7 linked regions of the Homo sapiens genome follow. The protein of the gene in region 4 purifies or fractionates together with the protein of the main gene of each other region. This does not show direct contact. Each region holds a gene or a part of one and is shown on either strand. Other genes may lie near its edges. The genes, in order: XPOT, ARCN1, XPO5, SLC60A2, SKIC3, PSMB2 and FASTKD1.

Region 1 (4,203 bases), on a different chromosome or scaffold from region 4:
TCATTATTTCTAATTATTTAAAAATTGTAATGCAAAGGATTCGTTTAAGAGACTTTCCATAGCAGCAGACATGTGTATTTTATTTTCTCTTTCCTTGGCTTGATCTATACAAGCTGTTTTAACACTTACCTTAATGATTTTTTTTTTATTTTAATTTTTTTCTAGAGATAGGGTTTCACCATCTTGCCCAGGCTGGTCTCGAACTCCTGAGCTCAAGCGATCTGCCCACCTCAGTCTCCTAAAATGCTAGGATTATAGGCATGAGTCACCCTGCCCGGCCACATTAGTGATATTTAACTTTCTTGTTATTTGGTCTAGGCAGACATAAATAAGCAGTTATGATAGGTTATGTCTTAAGTAAAATGGTTACATGACAAGAATCCATTATAAAGTGCTGGGATAGTTGGATAAATGTAAACAATTAAATATAATGTAGCCTACAACTATAATCATGACTATAGCTGAATGATAGAAAAATATAAAGAATGAGCCTATAATTAATTTTTTTTAAAGACGTGGGCATTTGGAACTATAGGGTAAGTGGAAAGGAAAGAGGCATTTTCTTTTTACTTTTCATAGCAAAGAATACTTTTTATAAATGAGCTAAATGAGGTTAACAATCTCACTAAAAATTATAGCAGTTTTTATTCTTATTTTAAGAAAAAAATCTTTTAAAGCAGTAAAAAACAATCCCAACTAGTTTCTAATACAGTACCATGTGCATGTCTCTGCTACTAAATAAGTAACGAGCCCTTCAGATACAGGAAAATAATAGGAATTGAGATTTAAGTATCTGGCTAATTACAAGATACCTATCAAACAAGTTAGGACATCAAAAGACATTTAAAATCCATGTCTTCTGTGTGTAAACAAATCTTTCTTGTCATAGGGTTTTATGCTACCTACCTTCAAACATAGTTGAAGTATCATAGATCTTTACCTTTAGTCTAGCTTGGTATTGCATGCTTGTAATTAAAAGCCTTTGACTGTATGTTTAGTTATTAAATGGCCTTTACTGTTATTTTTATGTGCCTCTTGAAATCTTTCATTTCTTAAGTTCCAGCATCCAATTTTTGGATGAAAGAGGCATTTTCTTTGCCTCTTAAGTTCCAGCATCCAATTTTTTTAAATGTGCCATGATTTCTTTTTCAGAAAATTAAAACCAATACATTATTAGTGGTTTTAATACAGAAGCTCTGCTTTTTGTCAGTAAAAATGGGTTCTGTCACATACGTGTTTTAAGCATCCAGGTCCAGGCATAATTCAGTATCCATTTAGCCAATCTGAATAACAATTTATTAGGATGAAAGGGAAGAAATCTTAAAGTGAATTCTGAAAGCCCTTTTGTTGCAGTTCGGGAGTAGTGGAAACTTAATTCAGTTTGGTGGTGAGAAGAATGACTGTCTGCCAACCCCAATTGCTCAGTTGTCTATCTGTAATTCTCTGTTTTTTACATGGGCAATAAAAGTTGAACTGACTCTTGTCACATAGAGTCAGTCAACCATTAGAAAAAAGGTATGGGGTAGAACTAGGTGGTGAAAGCTAGGACTTGTTTGTCAGTGTTGTAGAATTTTGTTTTTTTAATTGTTAGTAATGCATAGATTCAGAATACAAAGGCTTTGTTTAAAAACTAAAAACTTCCACGTTATCTCTCCTCTCCTTCCTCTCACCCCTGCCCCGCCCCCCGCCCTTTTTTTTTTGAGACAGAGTCTCACTCTGTTGCCCAGCCTGGAGTGGAATGGCACCATCTTGGCTCACAGCAACCTCCAACTCCCGGGTTCAAGAGATTCTCCTGCCTCAGCTGGGATTAGAGTAGCTAGGATTAGAAGCACACACCACCACGCCTAGCTAATTTCTGTATGTTTGGTGGAGACGGGGTTTCACCATGTTGGTCAGGCTGGTCTCAAACTCTTGACCTTGTGATCTCCCTGCCTCAGCCTCCCAAAGTGCTGGGATTACAGGCATGACTCACCGCGCCCAGCCTCCTCCTTTTTAAAAAATAAAACACTCGTCTTTGGCTTAAAACCTGTTATTATTTAAAGAAAATGGTATGTCATGACATTTCTAGCAGCTGAAACCACCTCTCCCCTCTTTTGTAAGTGAAATATTAGGTGGTAATGCAACATACATGATTAACTTCTACCTTGTCCTCTGGCCTCTGAGATATTCCTAAAGAATACCCTATGTTTCATGGACTGCTGTTAGAAACAACTAAGCTAGTACTATCTTTTATAGCTGCCTGTGTTCTTATAGTCTTAACTTCTAAAGAGAGACATTATTTACTCTGGGCTGTTTTCCAATACCAACAACCAACTCTCTTGATTTCTGTGGACACCAACTGGGTGTCCTACAAATCAATTCAATTCTGACACTACCAGGATTAGCATCACATCCCACAAGTTATGGGCTCGGTCTTACAAACCGCCCCCACTTAAGACACTAATTGAGTCCAGAACCTCTCATATTTCTGATGATGGAGTAGCCTACAGAACTTAGAAAAACAGTTGACTTTCTTGTGCTGATGAAGGATCCACCTCATGAGCAGCCACATGGAAGCGATGCATAGGGCAAAGTATAGGGGAAGGGGCACAGAGCTCTTGTGCCCTCTCTAGGAACACCACCCTCTCTAGGAACACCACCCTCTCAGCATCTCGATGTGTTTGCCAACCTGGAAGTTCAAGAGTTTTTATAGAGCTGAATCTTGAGTCCCTTCTCCCCTTCCCAGAGGTTGGTGGTTAGGGTAAAAGTTTCAACACTCTAATCAGTTGATCTTTCTGGTAACCAGCTGTATCCTGAGGCTGTCTAGTGTTCCCACACCAAGTTACCTCATTAACATAAACTCTGTTGACCCCGAAGTCTCTAGTGATCCTTCCACCTTAGCCTCCCAAGTAGTTGGGACTGTAGGTGCACGTCACCACTTCTGGCTAATTTTTAAATTTTTTGTAGAGACAGGGTCCCACTATGTTGCCCAGGCTAGCCTTGAACTGCTGGCCTCAAGTGATCTTCCAGCCTCAAGTGATCTTCCCACCTTGACCCCCCAGAGTGTTGGGATTATAGGTGTGAACTGCTGTGCCTGGCCCAAAGGACTCATTATAAATAACAAAAGACGGTCCTGTCGCTCAGGAAATTTTCCAAGAGTTTTAAGGGCTCTGAGCCAGCAACTGGCTGCAAAGCCCAAATGTATTTTTTCGTTATACCATATATTTAATATTATATTTGGTGATCTTCACCTAATCATCTTCATTTACCTGGTCTTCTGTCAGTGGGAGCAGCCATTGAGACCATGTATGAAAACCCATTCCCTCATTCATACAGTTACATAGTATAGGAAACTATCACCTAAATATAAATACAGTGGCTTTGATCTGTAACCCAAAGAAAAAAATAACTTTACATCTCGATGACCCAGTGTGTGTGTATATATTTATAGGTACATATGCACATAAATAACTAAAACAAGTTACAGAAAGTAATATTCTTGCTAGGGTATAGTACAGAATATCTAATATTCTCTATTTCATTTTTAAAAATTATTGTTCAGGACCCATAAACTGATTTCATCACTAGTGGGAGACACCACCGTTTTAAAAATATTTACCAATTGAAATTAGGTTTCTCTAAGGCTAATGTTTCTTTTACCTCATGTCAGCTTTTGTTTCATACATAATTGCTGTCAAATCATCTAGCAGTGCTTCCAGTTGATGTGCAATTTTCTTGTCTATTGGAGATACTTGTCACAAGATGTTCACTACTATTTGTCCATTGCCATGTGTGAAACCTGCATCTGGTGCAACATGCTGATGGGAAGAGTGCCTGAAGTAACTCCCATTTTCCCAACAGTTTGGTAGAGAGCGTATGGACTTGGTGCTGCATCCATTCTAGAGTACTCTTGCTCCTTGTTGGCACTGTTACTTGTGATTACAAGGCCCTGAATTCATAAACTTAGAGATAAAAAACTTCCTCGAGCTTTGACCTTTTCAGTTACTTAATATTTTTCAAAATTCATATCATGCACTTGTACTCCAATTTTAATCTCTTTAGGGAACTTACATGATATAATTAAAGACTTGAAATACTCTCCTGTGTAACAGTAGATCAGATAAGGTACACAGTATGTTTTATCTTTTATAATCACCGCTTTAATAGCAGATGTGCTATTAAATAGGAAAAGTGCCCTTCACGTGCCATTTTATAATTGCATAT
Region 2 (4,203 bases), on a different chromosome or scaffold from region 4:
CAGGAGTTCAAGTGCACAGGCATTATACTTTAGTGTGGGCAACACAGCAAGACCCTGATTCTTTTTTTTTTAAAGACGGAGTCTCGCTCTTGCCCTGGCTGGAGTGCAGTGGTGCAATGGTGCAATCTCGGCTCACTGCAACCTCCACCTCCCAGGTTCAAGCAATTTTCTGGCCTCAGCCTCCCGAGTAGTTGAGATTACAGATGTGCATCGCCATGCCTGGCTAATTTTTGTACGGGGTTTCACCATGTTGGCCAGGCTGGTCTCGAACTCCTGACCTCAGGTGATCTGCCTATCTTGGCGTCCCGAAGTGCTGGGATTACAGGCATGAGCCGCTGCACCCGGCTGTAAGAATCAGGGTCTTGGGCGTGGTGGCTCACGCTTGTAATCCCAGCACTTTGGGAGGCTGAGGCGGGTGGATCACCTGAGGTCAGAAGTTTGAGACCAGCCTGACCAACGTGGTGAAACCTCGTCTCTACTCAAAATACAAAAAAATTAGCTGGGCATGGTGGCGGGCACCCATAATCCTACTACTCAGGAGGCTGAGGCATGAGAATTGCGTGAACCCAGGAGGTGGGGGTTGCAGTGAGCCGAGATCGTGCCACTGCACTCCAGACCGGGTGACAGAGTTAGACTTTGTCTTAAAAAAAAAAAAAAAAAAAAAATCAGGGAGTTAGGCTGGGCGCAGTGGCTCACGCCTGTAATCCCAGCAGTTTGGGAGACTGAGGCAAGCGGATCACCTGAGGTCAGGAGTTCAACACCAGCCTGGCCAACATGGTGAAACCCCGTCTCTACTAAAAATACAAAAATTAGCTGGGCGTGGTGGTACACACCTGTAGTCCCAGCTACTCCGGAAGCTGAGGCAGGAGAATCACTTAAACCCAGGAGATGGAGGTTGCAGTGAGCCGAGATGGCACCACTGCACTCCAGCGTGGGCAGCAGAGCGAGACTCTGTCCCAAAAAATAAAATAAAGACTAGAAGTAGCTAATAAAGGGATTTAGGTTATTGAAATTTATGTACTCTAAAGGATAAGACTTGGAAATATAGCTGCTGATAAATTCTAAATCTTTCTTTTTTATTGGTGTCCACGCTTAGATCCCTGAATATTGCCGAGCCTTAGAAGAGAATGAAATATCTGAGCACTGTTTTGATTTGATTTTTGCTTTTGATGAAATTGTCGCACTGGGATACCGGGAGAATGTTAACTTGGCACAGATCAGAACCTTCACAGAAATGGATTCTCATGAGGAGAAGGTGTTCAGAGCCGTCAGAGAGGTAAATAGGATCTTCTCTGGGACTACCTGTTTGTATGTCTTTCTCTTAGGCTTCACTAATCTCATTTTCCTATTTTTACTTACTAATGTAGACTGTATTCAAAACTATGTCCAGGCTAGGCACAGTGGCTCATGTCTGTAATCTCAGCACTTTGGGAGGCGGAAGTGGGAGTATCACTTGAGTCCAGGAGTTCAAGACCAGACTGGACAGCGTAGTGAGACCCTGTCTCTATAAAAAGTAAAAAAAAAATTAGCCAGGCATGGTAGCACGTGCATGTGGGTCCCAGCTACTTGGGAGGCTGAGATGGGAGGATCACTTGAGCCCAGGAAGTTGAGGCTGCAGTGAGCTGTGATTGTGCCACTTGCACTCCAGCCTGGGTCACAGAGTGAGACCCTGTCTCAACAAAAACCCAAAAAAAAAAGCTACATTAATGTATGTCTTTTTCTGTAGACTCAAGAACGTGAAGCTAAGGCTGAGATGCGTCGTAAAGCAAAGGAATTACAACAGGCCCGAAGAGATGCAGAGAGACAGGGCAAAAAAGCACCAGGATTTGGCGGATTTGGCAGCTCTGCAGTATCTGGAGGCAGCACAGCTGCCATGATCACAGAGACCATCATTGAAACTGATAAACCAAAAGTGGCACCTGCACCAGCCAGGTATAATCCAGTGTACTTTAGAATACCAGGTGAAGGGTGTATATGTGTCTATCTTTGAAGTCATAATCTGATTTCTTGGAAAGCTGTAAATAAAGAAGGACTTGATGAAGTAAGATATGATGTTACATTTGGCCACATACAATATGAGGATAAAGAAGAAATCTGAATGTGGTGTTTTTCCTTTTGTATAAAAGAGAGTTATAAATTATGTCATGACCTCAGTTTCCTATGAGAGTTGCCTTATTGTGGGGAGGAAAGGGCTATTTAATGCTTTATGGAATGTAGATTTTTAATCTTGATGTTCATTGATTGATTTTAGGGGAAATCTGTGAATTACCCAAAATTATATACAAAATTTTGTGCACAGGTGTATTTCTCTGGACGGGAGATACAAAATTTTCATCAGATCATGTGTGCTTGTAAAAATAAACCTTTGGGTAATGAATTTCAAATTCTTCCACTTAGGCCTTCAGGCCCCAGCAAGGCTTTAAAACTTGGAGCCAAAGGAAAGGAAGTAGATAACTTTGTGGACAAATTAAAATCTGAAGGTGAAACCATCATGTCCTCTAGTATGGGCAAGCGTACTTCTGAAGCAACCAAAATGCATGCTCCACCCATTAATATGGAAAGGTAAGTAGGAACTTTGAGTAAGAATTCAAGCTTTGAATACAGTCCACATAATTTTTTAAAAATCTTATTTCAGTGTGCTATAAATTCTTTCTCTGTCTTTTAATCGTTCCTGATTTAAAAGATTTATTCAGAGCAGATTCTACATATTAACATAAGATCGTTTTTGGTTTTGTTTTGTTTTATTTACTTATTTTTTTTTGAGATGGAGTCTCACTCTGTCACCCAGGCTGGAGTGCAGTGGTGTGATCTCGGCTCGCTGCAAGCTCTCCCTCCCAGGTTCACGCCATTCTCCTGCCTCAGCCTCCCGAGTAGCTGGGACCACAGGCGCCCACCCCTACGCCCGGCTAATTTTTTTGTATTTTTAGTAGAGATGGGGTTTCGCCGTGTTAGCCAGAATGGTCTCGATCTCCTGACCTTGTGATCCGCCTGACTCAGCCTCCCGAAGTGCTGGGATTACAGGCGTGAGCCACCACGCCCGGCTGTTGTTTTGTTTTATTTTTTTGAGACAGGGTCTTACTATGTTGTCTAGGCTGGCCTCCAACTCCTGAGCTCAGTTAATCTTCCTGCCTCAGCCTCCCAAGTAACTGGGATACAGGCATGCGTTGCTGCACCTGACCTTTTCCTTTTTCCTTAAACCATGATTGGGGGCCCTCAGCCACCTATTTTCTATGAAGTTTAGAACTTTCCTTTTACAGCTAAATTAAAGTTACTTGTAGTCACACCTGGTATATAGCGTATCTCTTAGAATGCACTTGAATTAGGGGACTAGAGCTATGGTGACCCCACACTGTATTTTGGCATGACTTTTTCTAATTAAAGTCTAAGTAGAACCAATCTTTAATCCAAAACTTGTAGATATCTTTAATAGCAAATTAATATATTTTGCATTTTTATTTTATTTATTTATTTTTTTGAGATGGGGTTTCACTCTGTCACCCAGGCTGGAGTACAGTGGTGCAATCTCAGCTTGTTGCAACCTCTGCCTCCCAGGTTCAAGTGATTCTCCCACCTCAGCCTCCCAAGTAGCTGGGACTACAGGCATGCACCACCACGCTGGGCTAATTTCTGTATTTTGGTAGAGATGGGGTTTTGCCTTGTTGCCCAGGCTGGTCTCGAACTCCTGGACTCAAGCAATCTGCCTGCCTCGGCCTCACAAAGTACTGGGATTACAGGCGTCAGCCACCATGCCCAGCCATCTTTTGCAGTTTAAATATTTGAAGCCAGTATGGAATATTTTGATTCATCTCTTATCTCAGGGCTGTGGTACTGGTTGGTGACATTTTTAAGTGGTAGTTATCAAGTTCACATATTCGTGACTCAGATTTCTCGTCTTGAAGCCAGACCTTCTACTGTTGCTGATGGTTTTGAGGTCAAGTGAAAGATAATACCAGGAGGATACCTTTATCAGGTGTGCATAAAAGAGGAGTATTTACTCTTTTTCTTTCTTCTTTCCTTTCTTTCTTCCTTTCTTTCTTTCTTGACAGAGTCTTGCTCTGTCTCCCAGACTGGAGTGCAATGGCACGATCTTGCAACCTCCACCTCCCGGGGTCAAGCAATTCTCCTGCCTCAGCCTCCCAAGTGGCTGGGATTACAGGTGCACGCCATCACACCCGGCTAATTTTCTTATTTTTAGTAGAGACA
Region 3 (4,203 bases), about 68 Mb from region 4:
ACATTACTCCAGATTACAAATTATCCAGAAATTTCTTCTCTGAATGCACAGCAGTTATCTCCATATATATATAGATATACATATATATCTATATATATATATAAAACAAGCTGATCTTTTCACAGTTGTAGTATGGGAAAGTGCAGTTATCCAAATACTCAAGACAAGAGCTATCTTCCGCCTAAATTGCCTTGCTTATTTAGGCAAAATAAAGACATATAACAGAATTACCAAATAATAACCTTATAGGCCTGACTTTCCTGGGACTGCTTTGGTTTTCTTCTTTCTTCCTTGAGTAAGCCACCTCTCCTTGAAAATCAGACCTTTACCACCTCTGGCTTTTTTTCTTTTTGATCTGTAGCCCAATTTTGACATGCTTTATAACCATGTGAAGCAACTCCTCTCCAATGAGCTACTCCTGACACAAATGGAGAAGTGTGCCCTCATGGAAGCCCTGGTTCTCATTAGCAACCAATTTAAGAACTACGAGCGTCAGAAGGTGTTCCTAGAGGAGCTGATGGCACCAGTGGCCAGCATCTGGCTTTCTCAAGACATGCACAGGTAAAGGAGATCCCTTGCCCTGACTCTTACTATACTCAAGCACCCATTTTGGTTTAAGAGCTAGGCCCAGGGTGGGGTAGGGGTTAAGGATATTGAAGTGTGATGGCATTATCCATGATATCTGAAGTTCTCTAAAAGCAGTCTTTTGTAATTTAATCTCTGGTTCAATTAGATTGTGGGTGGGGAGGGCACAGAGTGAGACTCCTGTGGTGTCTGCATTGCAGCACCAGCACATTTAGAAAAATGAGAACAGCTAGGAAGGGCCATACAACCACACAGACACTTATCTGTGCTCACACAGTAGAGAAATTATTTTCTTTATATTTTGAAGATTATATTCTTGTTTAATTCTTAAATTGTTACTAATAATATTTGGGAGTGGGAAGGGAAATTTAAACCTTCAAATGACAACTGACAATTAGTATGATTATACTCCTCTCACTATAAAAACTGCTCTTAAGGGCCAAATAATGATAGCCTGTTAACTCCTGTGGAAGAAACTGTCCTTGTTTAAAGTCATGATGTAACTTGTTTTTCCCCCTCCAACCTTCAGAGTGCTGTCAGATGTTGATGCTTTCATTGCGTATGTGGGTACAGATCAGAAGAGCTGTGACCCAGGCCTGGAGGATCCGTGTGGCTTAAACCGTGCACGAGTAAGACTTTCCTGGGAATGGGAAGTGGCATTGGCCATGGGTAGGAGTAGGGTGTTGTCTTTTGTCAAGTTTCTCATAGATTTGTTTTTTCTATACTGGTGAGAAACGTGGGAGTCTCCACTTCCCTAAGCTTCTCCTTTCTTTTCTTCTTTAGTCTTGAATTCTTGAGTTAGTTCCCACAGCAGAGCAGATGGTCTTTTCTATGAAGTCATTATTTTGGCTTTAAGGATCTCTAAATAGCTCTGAAGACTGAAGGTGTAATGAGGAAGTAGGTCAGAACTTGGTCAGCAGGGTGAGTCCTCCCTGCCATTGCTCTCTGGCATGTAAAGTCTTAAGTGATGGCTTAACTTGCAAACCTGAGATTTTTCAGTGCTTTGCTATTTAAATAAGCATTGTTCCTGGCTCCATTATGGCACAAGTCCCATTAATTAACCTGGCAAGTAGTAGGTTGATTCAGAGTACCGTGAGGGGGGATTAGGACACTAGCTGTCAAGGCCCAATAAGGGTCAACTCAAAGAAGATGAAGTGATGGCATTTTAAACACTTTGTTTTGGATCGTATCTAAGCCACCTTCTCATCAGGGTCCTGTGGGTGGGTCACTGCAGCTCCTAGAAAGACAGCTTACTGCAAGGGAAGTTTCCAGAGCCTACCACTGGCCCTGAAAATGGCAGTGAGAGGATCCCTCTTGGACTTCACCTTAAAGGAAGGGATGGGGGATTGCCGGGGAGCAGAGGATTATTTCATTCTCTCTGGCCTCTGTGTCACTTTTGCCAGAACCTTGAATATATCTAACAGTATTTGGTCTTTTTTTTTTTTTCCTTTTAATATTTATCTGTCATTCTTATTTTTCTATAGATGAGCTTTTGTGTATACAGCATTCTGGGTGTGGTGAAACGAACTTGCTGGCCCACTGACCTAGAAGAGGCCAAAGCTGGGGGATTTGTGGTGGGTTATACATCCAGTGGAAATCCAATCTTCCGTAACCCCTGCACAGAGCAGATTCTGAAACTTCTTGACAATTTGCTTGCGCTTATAAGGTGAGTCAGAATAATGGCTTTTCTCTGTTGTTTTCTACTTTACCTTAAAAATTTCAAAAGTTTAGTCTGTTTACATGTCTTCATATCTTAGTGGTATTAATGAGGGATTGATTTAAGTCTTATTTCTTTCTAGAGGGTGTCTCAGTTTTAAAAAAAATAACATCAGCTCTCACTTGCATAAATCTTAATTTCCATGTGAACCCAAGGGGATAATCCCAAAAGGGCTTTTCCCATTTTGAGCCTCCTCTTTGTTGTTCTTCCATTTCTTTATACTTCATCCCTATTTTTACTTGTAAGTTTTATTTGGTCTAAATTTTTTAGTAAAGGAATTGCTCATTGGGAGCAGGGCAGTTGCCTTCTATAATGATGCTTGTCTAGGTGGTATTCATATGAGCTAATCTGAATTTATCAATACTGAGTCTGAGCTCAGATGAACCAAACAACCGCTGGCTGAACATGCTAAACAAAGGAATTATAAATTTTTCATCTGAGTTTGCTAGATCCTTGGTTCTCAAAGCTGAGTCCTAAGACCAGTAGCATTAGCATCACCTGAGAGCTTATTTCAAAGGCAGAATCAAGGCCCCACCCCAGACATACTAAATCAGAATCTGCATTTTAACTAGATGCCCAGTGGTTTATATACACATTAAACATTCAGAATCACTGTTTTAGATCACATGAGTTAATATATTCAAGTGGAAGTAGGCCAGTATAGGCTTATCAGTTACTAGATATAGATATTTGATGACTCAGGGATGGTCTCTAAATGAAAAGATAGGTTTTTTTATATAATTCAGTTATTGGCCAAAGAGTGCTTTTTGTATCTCACAGGATTGGTTTTTTTTTTGTTTGTTTGTTTTTTTGAGACAGAGTCTCACTTTGTCACCCAGGCTGGGAGTGCAGTGGTGCAATCTTGGCTCACTGCAACCTCCGCCTCCCAGGCTTAAGCGATTCTTCTGCCTCAGCCACCCAAGTAGCTGGGACTACAGGTGTGCACCACCACTCCTGGCTAATTTTTGTATTTTTAGTAGAGACAGGGCTTCGCCATGTTAGCCAGGCTGGTCTCGAACTCCTGGCCGCAAGTGATCAGTCCACCTCGGCCTCCCAAAGTGCTGGGACTCCAGGAGTGAGCCACCACACCTGGCCTCTCACAGGATGTTTAAATTACATTGTTAGAGCTCTGTTTCAGTACTTTTTGGCCCCTTCTCCAAGGAGTAAAAGCAGTCTCAACGGGGCAAACCAAATTATTCATGTCGCAGTGAAACTCTCCTGGGAATAGACACCCAAGACCTGAAGCCTGAGAACCAAAGATTTTAAGTTAATGTTGACAAATTGGAGGGCTGGAGTGTCTGATAAAGTTGTCATTGTGGACATGTCTGTGGAAATAGACAATATTTTGGCGGGGTGTGGTGGCTCACACCTGTAATCCCAGCACTTTGGGAGGCCAAGGTGGGTCAATCACTTGAGGTCAGGAGTTTCAGACCAGCCTGGCCAACATGATGAAACCCTGTCTCTACTAAAAATACAAAAATTAGCTGGGCATGGTGGCACATGCCTGTAATCCCAGCTACTCGAGAGGCTGAGGCAGGAGAATCGCTTGAACCCGGGAGGCGGAGATTGCAGTGAGCTAAGATCACGCCACTGCACTCCAGCCTGGGCGACAGAGTGAGACTTCCATCTCAAAATAAATAAATAAATAAATAATATTTTCTTTTGATTTCTAAAGGAGGAAAGAGATCTCTGAAAAGAAGTAGGACTTGTACTGAGAGGGTTAAACATTTAGTCAAGAAGAGGCTTATTTCTATCGTGATGTTTTTATTAATAGAGATGGGGTTTTGCCATGTTGCCCAGGCTGGTCTCGGACAGCTGAGCCTGCTTCAGTCTCCCAAAGTGCTAGCATTACAAGTGTGAACCACCACACCCAGCCCCATAGTGATGTTTTTTAAAACCAC
Region 4 (4,870 bases):
TCCCAGCCCTTGTCAACCACCATTCTACTTTGTCTATGAATTTGACTGCTCAGAGTACTTCATATAAGTGGGATCATACAGTTTTTGTCCTTTCATTACTAGCTTCTTTCCCTTAACATAATGTCTTCAAGGATCATCCTTGTTGTAGCATGTGTTAGAATTTCTTTCCTTTTTAAGTCTATGATACACCATTGTATATACATACTATATTTTGTTTATTCATCTGTCAGTGGACATTTGTGTTGCTTCTACATTTTGGCTGTTGTTAATACGCTGCTGTGAATGTGGGTGTACAACTGTGTCTTTGAGATCTTGTTTTCAGTTCTTTTGAGATATATACCCATAAGTGGAATTGCTGGATCTTATGGTAATTCTATTTTTAATATTTTGTTGTGTTTGTGTTTTTTGTCTTAGATTTTTTTCTTAATCAAGTTTTTCCAGAAGAGAGTAGCTTTAGGAAGAGAATAAACACATACTTTTAAGGTATTATCTCAGACTTTAGGCGCATTATGATCATATCAGTAGCACCCATGTACTGAATAAGTGAACTCAAAGAAAAGTTATGTTGGGCAACTACCTCAAAGTTTTGTTATCTCTGCTTGCAATTTTTGTTCAGTCATTGCACAAGTGCTTGAGGGCTTACTGCATGTGAGGCTCTGTAGACTAAGTATTAATGAACTTTCTTTTTTGTCCTTGCAGTAGCAGGTACAGCTTTGATCTCAGTTTTCTGCCAAATGAATGGTTCTGTGTTTTGTGCTCATTCGTTTACAGAGATCCCTCTGAACCACCTTGGAACCAGAAGGTGTGTGGTCTGAGAACGATAAATGGGCTGCTCTCTGCCTCTCTCACAGCAGTTCTGCCCCTCCTTGGGACCACTCGTTTTCTGCATTCCTGGCCCATCTTCTATATATCTCTGGTCCAGATTCCAGAGGAAACCTGTTTGACTTGAATAGATGCCATTGCCCTTATTGGGCCTTGCCTCAGGAGTTCCTCTGTGTATCTCTGGTCCAGATTCCGGAGGAAACCTGTTTGACTTGAGTAGATGCCATTGCCCTTATTGGGCCTTGCCTCAGGAGTTGCTGGTTAGCCTATGAAGGGGTTCCCTTTGGGTTGATGACATTGCTCCCATCCAGAAAGTGGCTACTTCTACCCTCCTACTCCCACCACTCTGCATGCAGGAGCTGTTATCATCAAAAGGGAATGTCCACTGTCTGCTCTGTACCAGAGAAGTGCTAGGCTTCATAAATATTGGTAATCGATACCTGAATGGGATGAAAATTGGCAGGTCCTGGGATGGATGGCCTGGTTCATCTGCATCAGAACTGGAAAAACAAAATCACACCAAATTGCAGACTTTTTTGGAAGAGCGTGTTAGACAAGGTTTGTGGATTGTTTGATTTTTACCAAGAAAGAAAGCTTTCTCCTAAGAGGGTAAGATTTCTACTTGAGTGAGCTCTAAGAGGAGTCCCAGTTTGCAAGAGATATTATTACAGTTCTCATCTGTGCGGACCAGAAAGTTTTCCAAATTCATGCATTTCAGTTATCTAACAGATATTTACTGAGCATTTACCATGTTCAGTAACCAGGGCCCTGGGAATATAATAGGAGAAGGCAGATGAGATCCTTGCCTTCACCAAGCTTATGTTTTTCTATTTTAAGTAAAATTTGCCATGACAAAATTTCTATCAGCGGAAGAGCCAGTAACTCTTATTGTAATAGGTTTTACCCAGTTTTAGAAAAGGAAAGTAGCTAAACTCTTGGTTCCTTGGTGTGTGTTTTTGTTTGTTCATTTCTAGTACTTGTCTATGTCTTTGGGGTAATTTTTGATTTAGAATTTTGTAGAAATTACTCGGCACAGTGTAGTTGAGGTGAATATAGGCAAGAAGGCTTAGGAAGCCTACAACAAAGGAATCTGACACCAACTTTTGAGATTTATTCAGTCCAGCCAAGAGAATATATTTATGGTCAAACTAGATCTTGGATTACAGCTCCAAAGACCCTTGGGCTGACAGAGCAGGTTCTCATTTCTCAGCTCTTTCCCTTATCACTTGCAGTGAACTCTGCCCCCAGGAGCAGAGTATCCAGTTCTGTGTCCAAGCACTCTATGAATCTTTACCCTTGTTGAAGAAATACTCAGAGACAGAAGCATTTAGAAAAGGAAAAGTTTACCTGCAAAGAGAGCAAGAGAATGACTGGCTTGCCTAATAAAAAACGTAAGTATTTGAAGGAAAAAATTAAAAACTGCCAAGGTTTCTGAGTTTGCATTAGACTGTTCACGGTGAAAAACAGTAACTGCCTCATGTAATTATTGTATTCATAAAGGTTATGGCAAATCTTCAGATGTAGTACAGGAAAAACCAAGGATAAAATTTCTTAGGGAGTCCAGGTTTATGGGAAACATTCAAGGTTTTATTGTTTTTTAGATCATCAACAGTTAGATGACCCTATCATTTTTGTTTTGTCTCAGGGTGCAACGTCTTTCTTTTCTGATGGTGATTGATATAGTTTGGCTGTGTCCCCACCCAAATCTCATCTTGAATTCCCATGTGTTGTTGGAGGGACCTGGTGGGAGGTAACTAAATCATGGGGGCAAGTCTTTCCCGTGCTGTTCTTGTGATAGTGAGGAAGTCTCACGAGATCTTTTGGTTATTATAAGAGGGAGTTTTCCTGCACAAGCCCTCATTTTGCCTGCTGCCATCTATATAAGATGTGATTTGCTGCTCCTTGCCTTCCGCCATGATTGTGAAGCCTCCCCAGCCATGTGGAACTGTAAGTCCAATAAACCTCTTTTGTAAATTACCTAATCTCAGGTCTGTCTTTATCAACAGCATGAAAACAGACTAATAGAATGATATAGGAAGTTCTTAGTCTTACTGAAGCAAGGGAAAGTGACATTTTGCTTCTACACCCTCCAGAATTCATAAGCTCCAGAAGGAAAGAGGACCCAAGGGAAAAACGTGATTGCAAAATGTGTTCTTGTCCTCTGCCCAAGTGATTAACCTTTGCTCCAGTGGTTTTCAAACCTGGCTGCTGTTAGAATCACCTGGCAGTGTTTAAAAATGACTGATGCCCAGCATTTTAACTTAAATACCAATTTGGTCTGGAGTGGAGCCTGAGTATGGATATTTAAAAAAGTAACTCCTCCTCCCCAATCCCCCGTAATTGTAATGTGCAGCCAAGATTGAGAACCACTGCTTTGATCAGTGCACAAAACTGGATCCTCTACTAATGACCGTGGTTTTTTCTTAGGCTTACTTACAGATTGATTAAGTTATGCCACTTTTGTAGATCCTTGAAATTCTGTGCACTTTCTTTCTTTCTTTTTTTTTTTTTTGAGACAGAGTCTCGCTCTATTGCCCAGGCTGGAGTGCAGTGGCGCTATCTCAGCTCACTGCAAACTTCACCTCCCGGGTTCACGCCATTCTCCTGAGTAGCTGGGACTACAGGCGCCCACCACTGTGCCCAGCTAATTTTTTGTATTTCTAGTAGAGACGGGGTTTCACCACGTTAGCCAGGATGGTCTTGATCTCTTGACCTCGTGATCCGCCCACCTCGGCCTCCCAAAGTGCTGAGATTACAGGCATGAGCCACCGCGCCTAGCCTGTGCACTTTCTTAAAGGAAAACTGGAGAGGAAGAGATCTCATGTTTTCTATTCACTCCACTGCTGCTTGGTCCAGTGCAGGAAATATTGCTGTTATTTGAAGTCCTTCCTAAAACAAAAGCTCAGATCTTTTGGAGGTTGCCCTTCTAGGCAGGTTTTCACCAGTCAATTTTGATTTGGGGGGCTTAACAGAGTAGGAATGATCTTGCAGGTTTATTACATCTGAATTTAAGACTACTCACCTAGGCTGGGCGTGGTGGCTCACACCTGTAATCTCAGTGCTTTGGGAGGCCAAGGCGGGAGGATACCTTGAGCCGAGGAGTTCAACACTGCAGTGAGCCATGATCACACCACTGCATGAGTGAGACTCCATCTCAAACAAAAAAAATAGACTACTCACTGTTTACATAGCTTTGTACCATATAAAAACTTGTTTGAATAAAATATTGATAACAATAGTGATGTTGGTTTAAGATTCATGTTTCAGTTGTTTCACTGATTTTTGAATTGATACATAATAGCTATGCATAATTATGGGTTCCCTGTGATAATTCGATACATGCATACAGTGTGTAATGAGCAAATCAGGGTAGTTGGGATATCCATCACCTCAAATGTTTATCATTTCTTTGTGTTGGGAACATTTCACATCTTCTCCTGTAGCTATTTTGAAATATACAATAAACTAGTGTTAACTGTAGTCACTCTACTGTGCTATCAAACACTAGAACTTATTCCTTCTGTCTAACTGTATTTTTGTATTTGCTAACCAACCTGCTGCCCTCTGCTCTGTCCCCTACCCTTCCCAGCCTCTGGTAATTATTATTCTACTCACTACCTCCATGAGATTAATTTTTTAGCTCCCACATCTAAGTGAGAACATGGAATATTTGTCTTTCTGTTAAGTGAAATAACTCCCTTAACATAGTGTCCTTCAGTTTCATCCGTGTTGCTGCAGATGATAGGATTTCATTTTATTATGGCTGAATAATATTTCATAGTGTATATACCACACTTTCTTTATCCATTCATCCGTTGAAGAACACTTAGGTTGATTCCATATGTGGTCATTGTGAATTGCTGCAATAAACATGGGAGTGCAGCTGTCTCTCTGATACACCAATCTCCTTTCCTTTGGATATACACCCAGCAGTGGAATTGCTGTATCATATGGTAGTTCTATTTTTAGTTTTTTGAGGAATCTCCATACTGTTTTATGTGGTGGCTGTACTAATTTACATTTCTCCAACAGTGTAGGAGCATTCCAC
Region 5 (4,203 bases), on a different chromosome or scaffold from region 4:
AACTTGAATGGAAGCAATGGATAATGCAAAAGGGTTGTATACTAATTTCAGCCATAAAAAGATATTTTAATTAGTAGAGAAAGTATTTCTTCATTTAGTCTTAAGATATATTAATTTTAAATAAATTAGCATATTTTAAGATTACACAACTTATTCTGGCTTACCTATAAACAAGTCTAATTCAATCATAATTCAATGTTGAAAAAAAGAAATATTTGTATTTTCTGTCAGCTCCTCTAATCTCATAGAAAGGTAAAACAAAGCTGGGGTAAATATTAAGTATTTATAGGCTTCAGATGCTCAAGGGAGTAAAATGTACCAAAAAGATGAATCACTGACATGGTACACTGACAGTCCTTTATATCCAAAGAAGAAGCTAACACAGAAGTATGAGACCAAAGAAGTTTGAGAAGTTAGATACATATTTTTTAATCTTTTTGACTTAAAAAATGTTAGGATTCAAAATAATAGAAAAATTAAGATACCATAAAATCAATTTATCTACAGCTAGAACCAGATTCCCTAAATAGGCAGATAAGTAACTTTTTTGCCTAGTTACAATAATTATATAATTTAAAGCACCATATTTCATATGTTCTTGCTTTAGAAACTACTACCTTATCTGAAATTATCTTGGTATATATTTATAGGTGAAAGCTTCAGAATGATTTTTTTGTAGTTTGCAAATCTTGATTGGAGTAGGTAACAAATTTCAATGCTGATTTCACAATTTTCTCAAACCAGTTTCCTTTGGTTAAAAAAAACCCTGCAGACTAAAAAGAAGAAAATAACATCAAGGATGATGACAACTGATCTAGATCAATAAAAAGAGACAAAAAGAGACACTCAAGTAAAAAAATCAAAAGATGTCCAAATTGAAAAGGAACAAAAACAGTCTCAAATTAAAAACAAACAAAAGACCACAACCATTACATAAGGAGGAAGTTCACCATCTCTTCTATCACCCAACATTCATGAGGGTATGTATACAAACAAGGCAGGACCAACCACTACTAAACTACATGCAGCCCCCAAGCTATTTGCTGTGCACGATATAAAAAATATATAAAGAATATAATCTAAATCAAGAGAAAGACTTAAGACATATAAGTCATTCAATAATCAAATGCTAAACTAAGGGTAATGAGTGGAAGTGCAATAGGAATTTAGAGAAGGAAAGGTGTGTGGTGTGATGTTATTAATGGCTTCTATTAATAGAAGATGACAAGACTTAAAAATGGAGTGAAGAAGGAAAATTGCTCTACTCAGAGGCAAATGCATTAGCAAAGTGACAGAAGTGGGAATGAGTTGTGGCAAGTATAGGAAACAGTGAGAAAGCCAGGCTGAATGGATCAGAAGGGACTTATTAAACAGAAGAAAATTAGGTTGGGTAGGTAAATAGAGCCTCAGATTACAGATCCTGAAAGTCAAACAGACAAGTGTGAAGTTAAATACAGCAGCAAATAGGAAGCCATTAGTAATTTTTAAGTAGGTTGTTTTTAAAGACCACTATATAGAAACAAACACCATTTTTCTCTTGGTAATCAATTCTAATATTAAATGTCCTTCAGTATCTGTATGTCTCCATATGTAATTACAATTCTTCATGCTACAATGGAACCCTCTATTCTCTTCCAATTCCTTCTTCATTTGATGCAACATTTAACACAATACGCTAGCACTGAGGTCCTCTCTCACTCATGCATACACACATATATGTACGTAAGTTTCAGAAGTTTAATTTGTAAAAAGACAAAATAATCTGCCCCTTTTCAACCCTAAAAACTACTACTTCCTTTTTTTTTAATTTTTATTTTTATTTTTGAGGGGAAAGGGAAACGTCCATTCACCAATTTTCTAAACAAACCCTTATTGAGATCCAACCATCTACTAGGTACCACTTAAACCCATTTTCCTTCCGAGGGTAAAAACCTACTACCCAAAATGATTCCACGTAACCCCATACTCCTCTATTTTGGATATTTCCCTTCATTGTAAGGATTTCTAACACGTCAAAGAAACATCTAGCTCTCTTGCAAGAGAGGGAGATGTCTTTAATATTCTTCCACAATATAACTCCCTATTAATTCTTTCCGCCTTATACCTCTCCTCCCACTATTCTCCTCAATCTCAACTGTCTTTTTTTAAATAAGAGTATTCATTTTGTACGTTTTCACTCAAGTTTTTCTACTACCAACCCAAAATATTTTTATCCAACATAAATCAAGAATAAAAAGTGGCAACAACTGCACTTAAAAAGAGTTAGAAAGTGACAGTCATGCCATAAAGGCAATGATATTCCTCAAGGACAACATATATAGGTATGATATATATGTCCCCAGTTGAGGCTATGAAACCTTAAATAATATTCCAATATGCTCATACAAAGATTCCACAAAGCTAAAACAACAATAATAATAAATAGTAATGATAATGACAACGGAAGCTAATTACAGAAAGGAAAAAAAACGATATCTTTAAATCTAATAACAAAAGGTATTTTGTAATGACCCATAGTCTGACATTAAAAAAAAAAAAAAAACTATGCCATTAAATCTTTCTTCTGAAAGGAATGAGTAAAAACAATCATTAAGTAAAAATAGATTCCAATTTATTATTTAGCATTGTAGACACTTACCTTTTACCAATTATTACCACCTCTATATTCTTCCCGAATTGAATTTGATTGTTCCTTACCCATTTTCCATCTAAATTAAACAAAAACAAGTATGAGACAATCATATAAAAAGGATGACACCCACAACCCAAAACCTTCTAAACTTTTTAACGCATCAATTTTCATAATTCATAATTTAAAACATGAGAAATAATTATGTATAATTTTTAGTATTTTTATTCTTTCCCAGAGAGACACTATTCTTAATCTCCAAACTTCTGAATTGGTCTAAACTATATTCCTGGGCCTCAGATGATAAAAGGAAACTTCTACAAGAGATCAGAAGGATTTTGAGAAACCATTTCAGAAACCCAAAATACACTGATGTCAATATAAAAAAATAGAGCCAAAGAAGAATATCTACTATTTCTGTGCCATTTTTGCTTTGAATCAAGGACATCTACAGACAACTAAGGGTACTTATTTACACCCAATTTGCAGCCTAATTATATTAGAATAGAACTTTTCTCTAAGGAACATAAGGAGTATAATATAATACAATTATATTAGTTTGTAATCTAATGAAAACAGAGAAATTTTTTTAATGTTAACAATGCATTTAAATAGTCATTAAAAATAGTAACACAACTACACATCTACAAATTCTAAGGATATTTTGATAGCATCCCTGAAGTGGCTTCTGTCAAACAAAAAACAATCTAGAATGGTCCCTGCAGAGAATGGAAGTGGTTTTGAAAAACTGAATAAAGTGAAAAAAAACATGCTACTTCAGAACTAGGAAGTAAACAATGTTTAGGTGAGGCAGGTAGGGATGAACAAGGAATGAAAAGTTTCCCTAACCAAAACACTCATTAGTGATCTACCGAAATAGAAGTGTCACTCCAACAGTAGAAAGTCTTACTGGTAAGAAAAGAAAGTATGGTAATCCAAACAATGTTTAGGAAAGTAAGATAATAGTTAAAAAAGAAAAAAAAGTACAAACTTGACTATTTCACTGGCTTCTTTAGCCCTGCTAACACTTGGCTGCCCTCCTCACCCAATCTAGTTTTATCACTCAGTCACTTCAACTCTGTTCTTACAAAGTACCCTAGATCCTGTCAGCCCCTTTACTCTGTCATATCCACCCACCAAGGCTTACCCTAGTTGAGAGTGAGCTTAGGAAATCAAATGGATCTAGGATCAAAGCCATTAGGCCTTGGGTACATGACTTCATTACTCAAAGCCCATTTCCTCACTGGTAAAGTAAGAATTACATCACTTACCTGATACACACATAGATGGAGTACTTGGACATAATCTATACTAATAATGTCCTATCTACTATTATTCTCTCAATCAACTTTGCTACTTGCCATTCCTAAAACAACTAGTGTGATAACTCAGTGTTAAAAATTTTCCCTACACATTCAAATCCCCAACCGTCCTGCAACCTCCTTCTTCCTTGCTCTCTCAAGAAGTAAACTTCTTACCTATACAAACGGCCCCTGACTTACAAATGGTTGAACTTACAATTTTTTGACTTTACGATGGGCTTATCAGCATATTAAATGCATTTTGACGTACAA
Region 6 (4,203 bases), on a different chromosome or scaffold from region 4:
CCCTTTCCTCATGCAACAGCTATGAAATAGCTGGTTAGTACTGACAGCAATTCTTGGCCACAAACAGAACCAGTTCTATAGTGGAATGAAACTTCTAGCAGCCTTGCTTAAACTATTCATTCATCAACACACTGTGGTTTCTGCCGTAGAAGGAAAGGAACACGAATACACAAGAAGTGAAAAAAAAAGAAAGGCGTCTTAGATGCCAATCTTTTAAAAGTTTATTTTAAAAAGGATATTGGGGGCCAGTCACAGTGGCTCATGCCTGTAATCCTAGAGCTTTGGGAAGCCAAGGTGGGAAGATCGCTTGAGCCCAGGAGTTTGAGACTAGCCTGGGCAACATAGTGAGACCCCCATCTCTAAAAAAAATTTTTTTTTAAATTTCTAGGCATGGTGGTACATGCCTGTAATCCCAGCTACTTAGGAGGCTGAGTGGAGAGGATCAATTGACCCCAGAAGTTCAAGTGAGTTATGACTGTGCCACTGCACTACAGCATGGGTGACAGAGCAAGACCCTGTCTCTAAAAAAACGAAAACAGGAACAAAAAGGATATTGGGAAAAGAGAGGCTAGAAGTTAGGACTACCTCAGAGTCATAGTTTATTAAAAAAATATTTTAAATGTTACTTTATTAAGAAGTATAATATGACTTTCAAAAGTATAAGCCACAGAAAAAGAACATTTCCATCATTCTGCAGTATTTTTAAAAATAGAGTATCTCAAGTGTTAAAACTTCAAAAATAAAAGTTGTCATACCAACAAAGGTACAACCCAGAGGAATAGCATCAGGTGTGCATGTAATAACGCATTCACTTTGGAGCTTAATCCCCCTGTAGAATGGGACCAGTGCCAAAAGGCACAAGAATGATCCATAACTCAGTGGGCCCACACAGAAAATGTCAGTATGGAAAGACACACAGCAGTGTGGTTAAGTAATTGCTTACAACATTTCAAATACCACTGTCAAATTAGGAGAGATTCAGATTCAAATCCTAACAAATATTTATTGAGCAGCAACTATGTTTCAGGGTCTATGCTGAGTGTTTTCACATGTATTATTGTACTTTATCCTCACAAGTCTATTAGTGCATATTAAATCATAATGAAAGCAATCCTTGGCCAGGTGCAGTGGCTCATGCCTGTAATCACAGCACTTTGGGAAGCGGAGGCAGGCAGATCACTCGAGCCCAGGAGTTTAAGACCATTCTGGGCAACATGATGAAACCCCGTCTCTACTAAAAATATAAAAATTAGCCAGGGGTGGTGGTGCACACCTGTTTTCCCAGGTAGTTGGGAGGCTGAGGTGGAAGGATCACCTGAGCCTGGGAATTCGAGGCTGCAATGAGCCATGATTGTGCCACTGCACTCCAGCCCAGGCGACAGGAGTGAGACCCTGTCTCAACAACAACAACAAAAATAATAATAATAATTTAAAAAAAGAGGCCAGGCACAGTGGCTCACACCTGTAATCCCAGAACACTTTGGGAGGCCCAGGTGGGTGGATCACCTGGGGACAGGAGTTTAAGACCAGCCTGGCCACCATAGCGAAACTCTGTCTCTACTTAAAATACAAAAAATTAGCCAGGCATGGCGGTGCATGCCTATAATCCCAACTACTCAGGAGGCTGAGGCACGAGAATCACTTGCACCCAGGAGCTGGAAGTTGCAGTGGGCTGAGACTGCACCACTGCACTCCAATCTGAGCAACAGAACGAGACCCTGACTCAAAAAAGAAAAAAAAAAAAAAAGAAGGAACCTAGACAAGTGGGAATACTATTCAATTCTTTACTTAACCCCCTAAACACCACTGAAGATCTGACCATTATCCTAAAGGCAGAAAAGTCATGCCTGATTATCTGCATATAGATTTTCTCTTTCTTTCCCTTATTTTAGCTCAGTTCTTTAACTTATATAAGAATTACTATATAGAGTTACATACACAAAACTGTACTTGGCAGGTAATTTAAGGGTCTTTAAGGGCAATTTTAACCAAACACAGTTTTTGTCTGTGCACTGACTTTAGACCCTAAAACCCAGTAACAAACAACTCTTGCTACTCTTGTTCACTCTTCTCCCTCTCTCAGGACAGCCAGTGAAGTCATACAGTACCTACTGGACTTCAGAAGCATTACTGACATACTTCATTTGTTATGCAGGCAAAAAGTGGAACCACTGGAAAAAAAAGCAGAATTCTTGAAATATTCTAAACCTGCATAAACCTAAGTACCATGTACTTTATGTTCCTGAATGTCAGGACTAAGCCTTATTCATCTTTGAATTCTCTTAAGTATTAAGCAGAATGCTTACCATAGAAGAGGCCCTCAAAAGTATTTATGGAATTGAATACAAATGCTAAATCCACTGCCCAAACTATGTGAATAGATCTTTGGTCATTTTACACATGCAAGTATATTCAAATTAACTTCCTTCATAGCTCCATATTATACCAGTGCAGTGTATAACGTTGTTATTGAACTGTGAGGTAAGTGGAAATAAGGTTTTCTCTGCCAGACCACCACTACAAACATTCCTGGATCAGAGGCCTAGTGGCTAGTATCGTTTGCTAGGGAGGTTTTCCCAGTGGATAAGAGTTCATTAGCCCCAGAGAGAGCTCACAAAATACTTCACAAAAGTCTTAATTATCTCTCTAGAAGGAAACCTACCAGAGAGTAAGGCAGAACCCTTTTATGGCACAGTAAATACTTATAGTTAGTTACACAATGCTTTAGGTTTACAAAATATTTTCATATGTATTATTCATTAGTATTATAATTCATTTCAGAGATAAGGAAAATAAAGTCCCAGAGAAGATAAATGACTTATCACATAAAAAATAGTAAAGCCAAGGTTTACTTAGGTTTTTTGACGCTGAGATTCAGATTTTTTTGTTTCTTTGTTTTGAGACAGGGTCTCACTCTGTCGCACAGGCTGGAGTGCAGTGGCACTATCATGGCTCACTGAGACCTTGAACTCCTGGGCTCAAGTGATCTTCCCACTTCAGCTTCCTGAGTAGCTGGGACTATGGGTGTGCACCACTGCACCCAGGTAAATATTTTTATTTTTTATAGAGCCAGGGTCTTGCTTTGTTGCCTAGGCTGGTTTCAAACTCCTGACCTCAAGTGATCCTCCCATCTCAGCCTCTCAAAAGTGCTGGGATTACAGGTGCTAGCCACTGTGCCTGGCCAGGTTCAGATACTTTTAAACTCAAACCACATCCTCTGAGATATCTAACACTTAAAAAGTCTGATACTACCATCCCTACCTCCAAGATGGTGTTGGGTTTTTTTTTTTTTGGTTGGTTTAAAAAAATTTTTTTTAGAGACAGAGTCTTGCTGCCTTCCAGAGTACAGTGGCACAATCATAACTCACTGCAGCCTCGACCTCCTGGGCTCAAACGATCTTCCTGCCTCAGCCTCCTGAGTAGCTAGGGCTATAGGTGCATGCCACCACACTCAGCTAATTTTTAAAAACTTTTTTGTAGAAGGCCGGGCGTGGTGGCTCACACCTGTAATCCCAGAACTTTGGGAGGCCGAGGTGGGCAGATCATCTGAGGTCATGAGTTTGAGACCAGCCTGACCAACATGGAGAAACCCTGTCTCTACTAAAAATACAAAATTAGCCAGGCGTGGTGGCACATGCCTGTAATCCCAGCTACTTGGGAGGCTGAGGCAGGAGGATTGCTTGAACCTGGAAGGCAGAGGTTGCGGTGAGCCGAGATTGTGCCACTGCACTCCAGCCTGGACAACAAGAGTGAAACTCCATCTCAAAAAAAAAAAAAATTTTTTTTTTTTTTGTAGAGATGAGGTGTCACTACATTGCTCAGGCTAGTCTTAAACTCCTGGTCTCAAGTGATCCTCCCACCTTGTCCTCCCCAATTGCTGGGATTACAGGCATGAGCCATCATACCAGGCCGATGGTGTTAGTTTTATCTATCAGCTATCAGTGTTACAACAGTTCTCTGCTCTAGGATTTTTGTAGAAAATCTTTTATGAAGGATTAGAATCTTTAGGGTCTAGACAACTTCTTAAACACAGAAAACTCTAATGAAAATATGGGCTGGGCGTGGTGGCTCACGCCTGTAATCCCAGCACTTTGGGAGGCCGAGGTGGGCAGATCACAAGGTCAAGAGATGGAGACCATCCTGGTCAACGTGGTGAAACCCTGTCTCTACTAAAAATACAAAAATTAGCTGGACGTGGTGGTG
Region 7 (4,203 bases), on a different chromosome or scaffold from region 4:
CCTTGAGCAAGTTCTTCTGAACCTTGTTAACTTCTTCATCAGTGAAATGGGGATAATAATGCCTACTTGATAGGATTAACTGAGATATTGCATGTAAAGCATTTAACACTATCCTTGGAACATAGTAAGTGCTCAATGAATTTATTTTTATTTTAATTTTTTTATAGAGACAGGGTCTCACTATGTTGCTGGTCTCAAACTCCTGGGCTCAAGCGATCCTCCTGCCTCAGCTTAGCCTCCCAAAGTGTTGGGATTACAGGTGTGAGCCACTGTGCCCAGCCCAATAAATCTTACTTGAAAAAAAAAAAAAGGATGTTTAGTCTGAAAAATAGAAGTCTTATGGGGACCATAATGTTTTAAAATGTTTGAAGGATTGTTAAGTAGAAGAACTAGATATCTCTATCTCAAAGATGAACAAAATGGTAAAAATGAAAGGAAGCAGACTTTAACTTGGTATAATGAGAATTATTGACTGCTTTCTGAAGAAGTAATGTTGAGGCAGAGGCTGAGTATTCAGATGATAGATGTGTGTGATTTTTGCACTGGGCAGGAAGGTGAACTAGATAATCATTAATGCTCTCATCTTGTGCTATAAAACACAACTTTCCTTTGATTTTATGTTAATCAGGATTGAGTTGGGTATGAGTGACAAAAATCCATAAATTGGCTGGGCACAGTGGCTCATGCTCATACACATAGTCTCAGCACTTTGGGAGGCTGAGGTGGAAGGATAGCTTGAGCTCAGGAGTTTGAGACCAGCCTGGGCAATGTAGTTAGACCCTGTCTCTAAATAAATAAATAAACAAATAATAAATAAATAAATAAATAAATAAATAGCAGGCATGGTGGTATGCCCCTCTAGTCCCATTGCTCAGGAGTTTGAGACCAGCCTGGGCAATATAGTAAGACCCTGTCTCTAAATAAATAAATAATTATCAGGCATGGTGGCATGCCCCTGTAGTCCCATTAGGAGGCTGAGGTGGGAGAATCTCTTGAACCCAGGAGTTGAGTCTACAGTGAGTTACAGTCACGCTACTGCACTCTAGCCTCAGTGACAGAGCAAGACTCTGTCTCTAAAACAAAACAAAACAAAACAAAACAAAAAACAAACATTGAAGCTGGGCATGGTAGTGCAAGCCTGTAATCCTAGCTACTTTGAGAGACAGAGGTAGGAGGATCACTTGAGCCCAGAAGTTTGATACCAGCCTGGGCAATATAGTGAGAAGCCATCTCTTTTTAATATTTTTCTTTTTTTCTTCAGAACAATATGAATATAACCCCATCTCTTAAAAAAAAATTACATGAGACATGCTTAACATAGAAAAACTAGAAAAGGAAGATAACAAAAAAGAAAAATTACCCATGATATAGCCGCTGTTTGCTTTTGGTGTCTGTTTTCCTAACTTAAAAAAAAAAAAGACAAAAAGGTTTTCTTCTGTAGTGTTTGTGTTTTAGTCCTTTTCTGCTGCTACAACAAAATACCTGAGACTGGTTAATTTATAAACAACAGAAATTTGGCCGGGCGCAGTGGCACACGCCTGTAATCCCAGCACTTTGGGAGACAGAGGCGGGCGGATTACCTGAGGTTGGGAGTTCGAGATCAGCCTGGCTAACATGGTGAAACCCCATCTCTACTAAATATACAAAATTAGCTGGGCGTGGTGGCGCACGCCTGTAATCCCAGCTACTCCTGAGGCTGAGGCAGGAGAATCGCTTGAACCCGGGAGACGGAGGTTGCAGTGAGCCGGGATCGTGCCACTGCACTCCAACCTGAGCGACAGTGAGACTCTGTATCAAAAAAAAAAAAAAAAGAAAAAAAAAAAACAACAGAAATTTATTTTTCACAGTTCTGGAGGCTAGGAAGTCCAAGCTCGAGATACCAACAGGTTTGGTATCTACTAAGGACCTAGCCTCTGCTTCCAAGATGGTACTTTGAATGCTGTGTCCTCCCATGGCAGAAGGGACAGGAAGGCAACAGAGGATGCTCTTTTATAGGGTCACTAATCTTATTAATGAGGGCTCTGCCCTCATGACTTAATCGTCTCCTAAAGGTTCTGCCTCTTTTTTTTTTTTTTTTTTTTTTTTTTTTTTGAGAAAGGGTCTTGTTCTGTCACCCAGGTTGGAGTGCAGTGCAGGAGTGCAGTGGCATGATCACGGTTCATTGCAACCTCTGCCTCCAGAGCTCAAGTGATTCTCCCACCTCAGCCTCCTGAGTAGCTGGGTCTACAGGCACACACCACCACACCAGGCTAATTTTTGTGTTTTTTGTAGAGATGGGGTTTCACCATGTTGCACAGGCTGGTCTTAAACTCCTGAGCTCAAGCAGTCCTCCTGCCTCTGCCTCCTAAAGTGCTAGGATAACAGGTGTGAGCTACCACGCCTGGCCTAAGGTCCCACTATTATTATTAACACATTGATGATTATGTTTCAACAGATGAATTTTGGGGGACACATTTAGATCATAGCAGTTTATAACTTTATATGTTGTGAATATTTTTCTATGCCAACAGATATGCTTATACAACATCTTTTTTAGTTACTGCATATTTCATTGAGTATGCTATGATTTAATCAATCTGTAAGATTTTTTTGCTGGTATGTCCATCTGTCAAACAATGCTGCAATTTCATATAACAACAATAATAGGTTTATTTTTATATATTGCTTATTATGTGTTAGACACCATTTTAAGTACTTCGTAAGTACTTGTGTGTGTGTATGCATATAGTAAACTTATATCCCTATGAAGTATGTAAATTATTTGCAGATGAGGAGACTAAAGTCCACAAACATTATTGATTGCCCAAGGTTATATACCTGGCAAATGACAGAGCCAGGATTTGAGCTTGGCATTCTGGCTCTAGAATTCATTCTCTTAATGAATTCTATATATTTCATCTTTCATAATTAATTTAAAGATGGTTCAGTGCCTGAGTTTTTCACCAGAGTTCCATCTGATTCTTTTCAAATCACAGACATCATTTCAGGAAGTATATTTAAAAGATAAGAATGACTTAAAAAACATAACAACAATATCATCTTTATCATCCTATAACCATTAATAATAATTTCTTAATATCTTTTAAGAAATGTTCAGCAATATGGGAAATTTAACGTAAGTAGACAGATGGGAAATTTTAGATAAAATTTAACATTTTATTGAAATGTTAGATTTGGCATACTATAATGAACTCAATGATCAAGGATTGAAGGTAGTAGAATTATGGGAAATGTCACATAAGTAGAGAGATATGGGAAATTTTAGATAAAATTGAACATTTATGGGAATTATGGGAAATGTAACATAAGTAGGGAGATATGGGAAATTTTAGATAAAATTTAACATTTTATCGAAATGTTAGATTTGGCCTACTATAATGAACTCAATGGTGAAGGATTGAAGGCAGTGGAACCTATTCCTCATACGTCTCATGCACTGCACCCCTATACCTTTGCTTTTCCTGTTTTAAGTGTCTTTTATGTTTATTTTATAGTTTGTCCAAATTGGGATCTTAACATTCCACTTGGTTGGTTTGCAGTTTTTGGTTCAACTTTTCCTTTCCTACTTCTTTTTTTAACTTAAAATTTGAGAATAAGTTTTTTTTTTCCACATTTCGAACTTTTCTAATTGCAGCCCTGTGATAACATTTAAAATGTCATCTGATAGTTTTTAATGTTTTTACTGTAAACCTGGGTTTGCTGTAAACCATTAGTGATATCTAGAGATTTGATTAGATTTTAGGTTTTTTTTTTAGGTTTTTCTTTTTGGCCAAAAACTTCATAAGTGGCTTGTACTTCTTTCTGCATCCTCTCAGGAGGCACACAAGGCTGGTTGTCTTTTTCTTTTTCTTTCTTTCCTTTTTTTTTTTTTTGTCTGGCTCTGCTGCCTAGGCTGAGGTGCAGTGGCACAAGCATGGCTTACTGCAGCCTTGACCTCCTAGGTTCAAGGGATCCGCCCACCTCAGCCTCCTCAGCCGGAGTAGCTACCACTACACCTGGCTTATTTTTTAAGTTTTTTGTAGAGATTGGGTTTTGCCATGTTGCCCAGGCTGGTCTGGAACTCCTGAGCTCAAGCAATCTGCCTGCCTCGGCCTCCCAAAATGCTGGGATTACAGGTGTGAGCCACTGTGCCTGGCCTGGTTGTCTTTTATACATTAAGACTCATCAGTGGGTTCGTATGTTGTCAGCTGATTCATTCAACAG

Evidence for each region.
Region 1: the proteins of SLC60A2 (region 4) and XPOT purify together in Homo sapiens (affinity purification with mass spectrometry; one large-scale study listed by BioGRID and IntAct). This does not show direct contact.
Region 2: the proteins of SLC60A2 (region 4) and ARCN1 purify together in Homo sapiens (affinity purification with mass spectrometry; one large-scale study listed by BioGRID and IntAct). This does not show direct contact.
Region 3: the proteins of SLC60A2 (region 4) and XPO5 purify together in Homo sapiens (affinity purification with mass spectrometry; one large-scale study listed by BioGRID and IntAct). This does not show direct contact.
Region 5: the proteins of SLC60A2 (region 4) and SKIC3 purify together in Homo sapiens (affinity purification with mass spectrometry; one large-scale study listed by BioGRID and IntAct). This does not show direct contact.
Region 6: the proteins of SLC60A2 (region 4) and PSMB2 purify together in Homo sapiens (affinity purification with mass spectrometry; one large-scale study listed by BioGRID and IntAct). This does not show direct contact.
Region 7: the proteins of SLC60A2 (region 4) and FASTKD1 purify together in Homo sapiens (affinity purification with mass spectrometry; one large-scale study listed by BioGRID and IntAct). This does not show direct contact.

Annotation. Positions count from the first base shown.
Region 1 is NC_000012.12:64,410,342-64,414,544, forward strand, and holds part of XPOT (exportin-T), read left to right. Parts: intron 1-4,203. UniProt on the Homo sapiens protein: Mediates the nuclear export of aminoacylated tRNAs. In the nucleus binds to tRNA and to the GTPase Ran in its active GTP-bound form. Docking of this trimeric complex to the nuclear pore complex (NPC) is mediated through binding to nucleoporins.
Region 2 is NC_000011.10:118,582,083-118,586,285, forward strand, and holds part of ARCN1 (coatomer subunit delta), read left to right. Parts: intron 1-1,096; coding exon 1,097-1,276; intron 1,277-1,726; coding exon 1,727-1,932; intron 1,933-2,397; coding exon 2,398-2,562; intron 2,563-4,203. UniProt on the Homo sapiens protein: Component of the coatomer, a cytosolic protein complex that binds to dilysine motifs and reversibly associates with Golgi non-clathrin-coated vesicles, which further mediate biosynthetic protein transport from the ER, via the Golgi up to the trans Golgi network.
Region 3 is NC_000006.12:43,544,619-43,548,821, reverse strand, and holds part of XPO5 (exportin-5), read left to right. Parts: intron 1-361; coding exon 362-561; intron 562-1,114; coding exon 1,115-1,214; intron 1,215-1,368; exon of another isoform or gene 1,369-1,506; intron 1,507-2,069; coding exon 2,070-2,251; intron 2,252-4,203. UniProt on the Homo sapiens protein: Mediates the nuclear export of proteins bearing a double-stranded RNA binding domain (dsRBD) and double-stranded RNAs (cargos). XPO5 in the nucleus binds cooperatively to the RNA and to the GTPase Ran in its active GTP-bound form.
Region 4 is NC_000006.12:111,275,946-111,280,815, forward strand, and holds the end of SLC60A2 (sodium-dependent glucose transporter 1), read left to right. Parts: 3' UTR 1-4,060; downstream 4,061-4,870. UniProt on the Homo sapiens protein: May function as a sodium-dependent glucose transporter. Potential channels for urea in the inner medulla of kidney.
Region 5 is NC_000005.10:95,547,943-95,552,145, forward strand, and holds part of SKIC3 (superkiller complex protein 3), read right to left. Parts: intron 2,709-4,203; 5' UTR 2,639-2,708; intron 774-2,638; 5' UTR 618-773; intron 1-617. UniProt on the Homo sapiens protein: Component of the SKI complex, a multiprotein complex that assists the RNA-degrading exosome during the mRNA decay and quality-control pathways.
Region 6 is NC_000001.11:35,631,496-35,635,698, forward strand, and holds part of PSMB2 (proteasome subunit beta type-2), read right to left. Parts: intron 43-4,203; exon of another isoform or gene 1-42. UniProt on the Homo sapiens protein: Non-catalytic component of the 20S core proteasome complex involved in the proteolytic degradation of most intracellular proteins. This complex plays numerous essential roles within the cell by associating with different regulatory particles.
Region 7 is NC_000002.12:169,532,072-169,536,274, reverse strand, and holds part of FASTKD1 (FAST kinase domain-containing protein 1, mitochondrial), read left to right. Parts: intron 1-4,203. UniProt on the Homo sapiens protein: Involved in the down-regulation of mitochondrial MT-ND3 mRNA levels which leads to decreased respiratory complex I abundance and activity.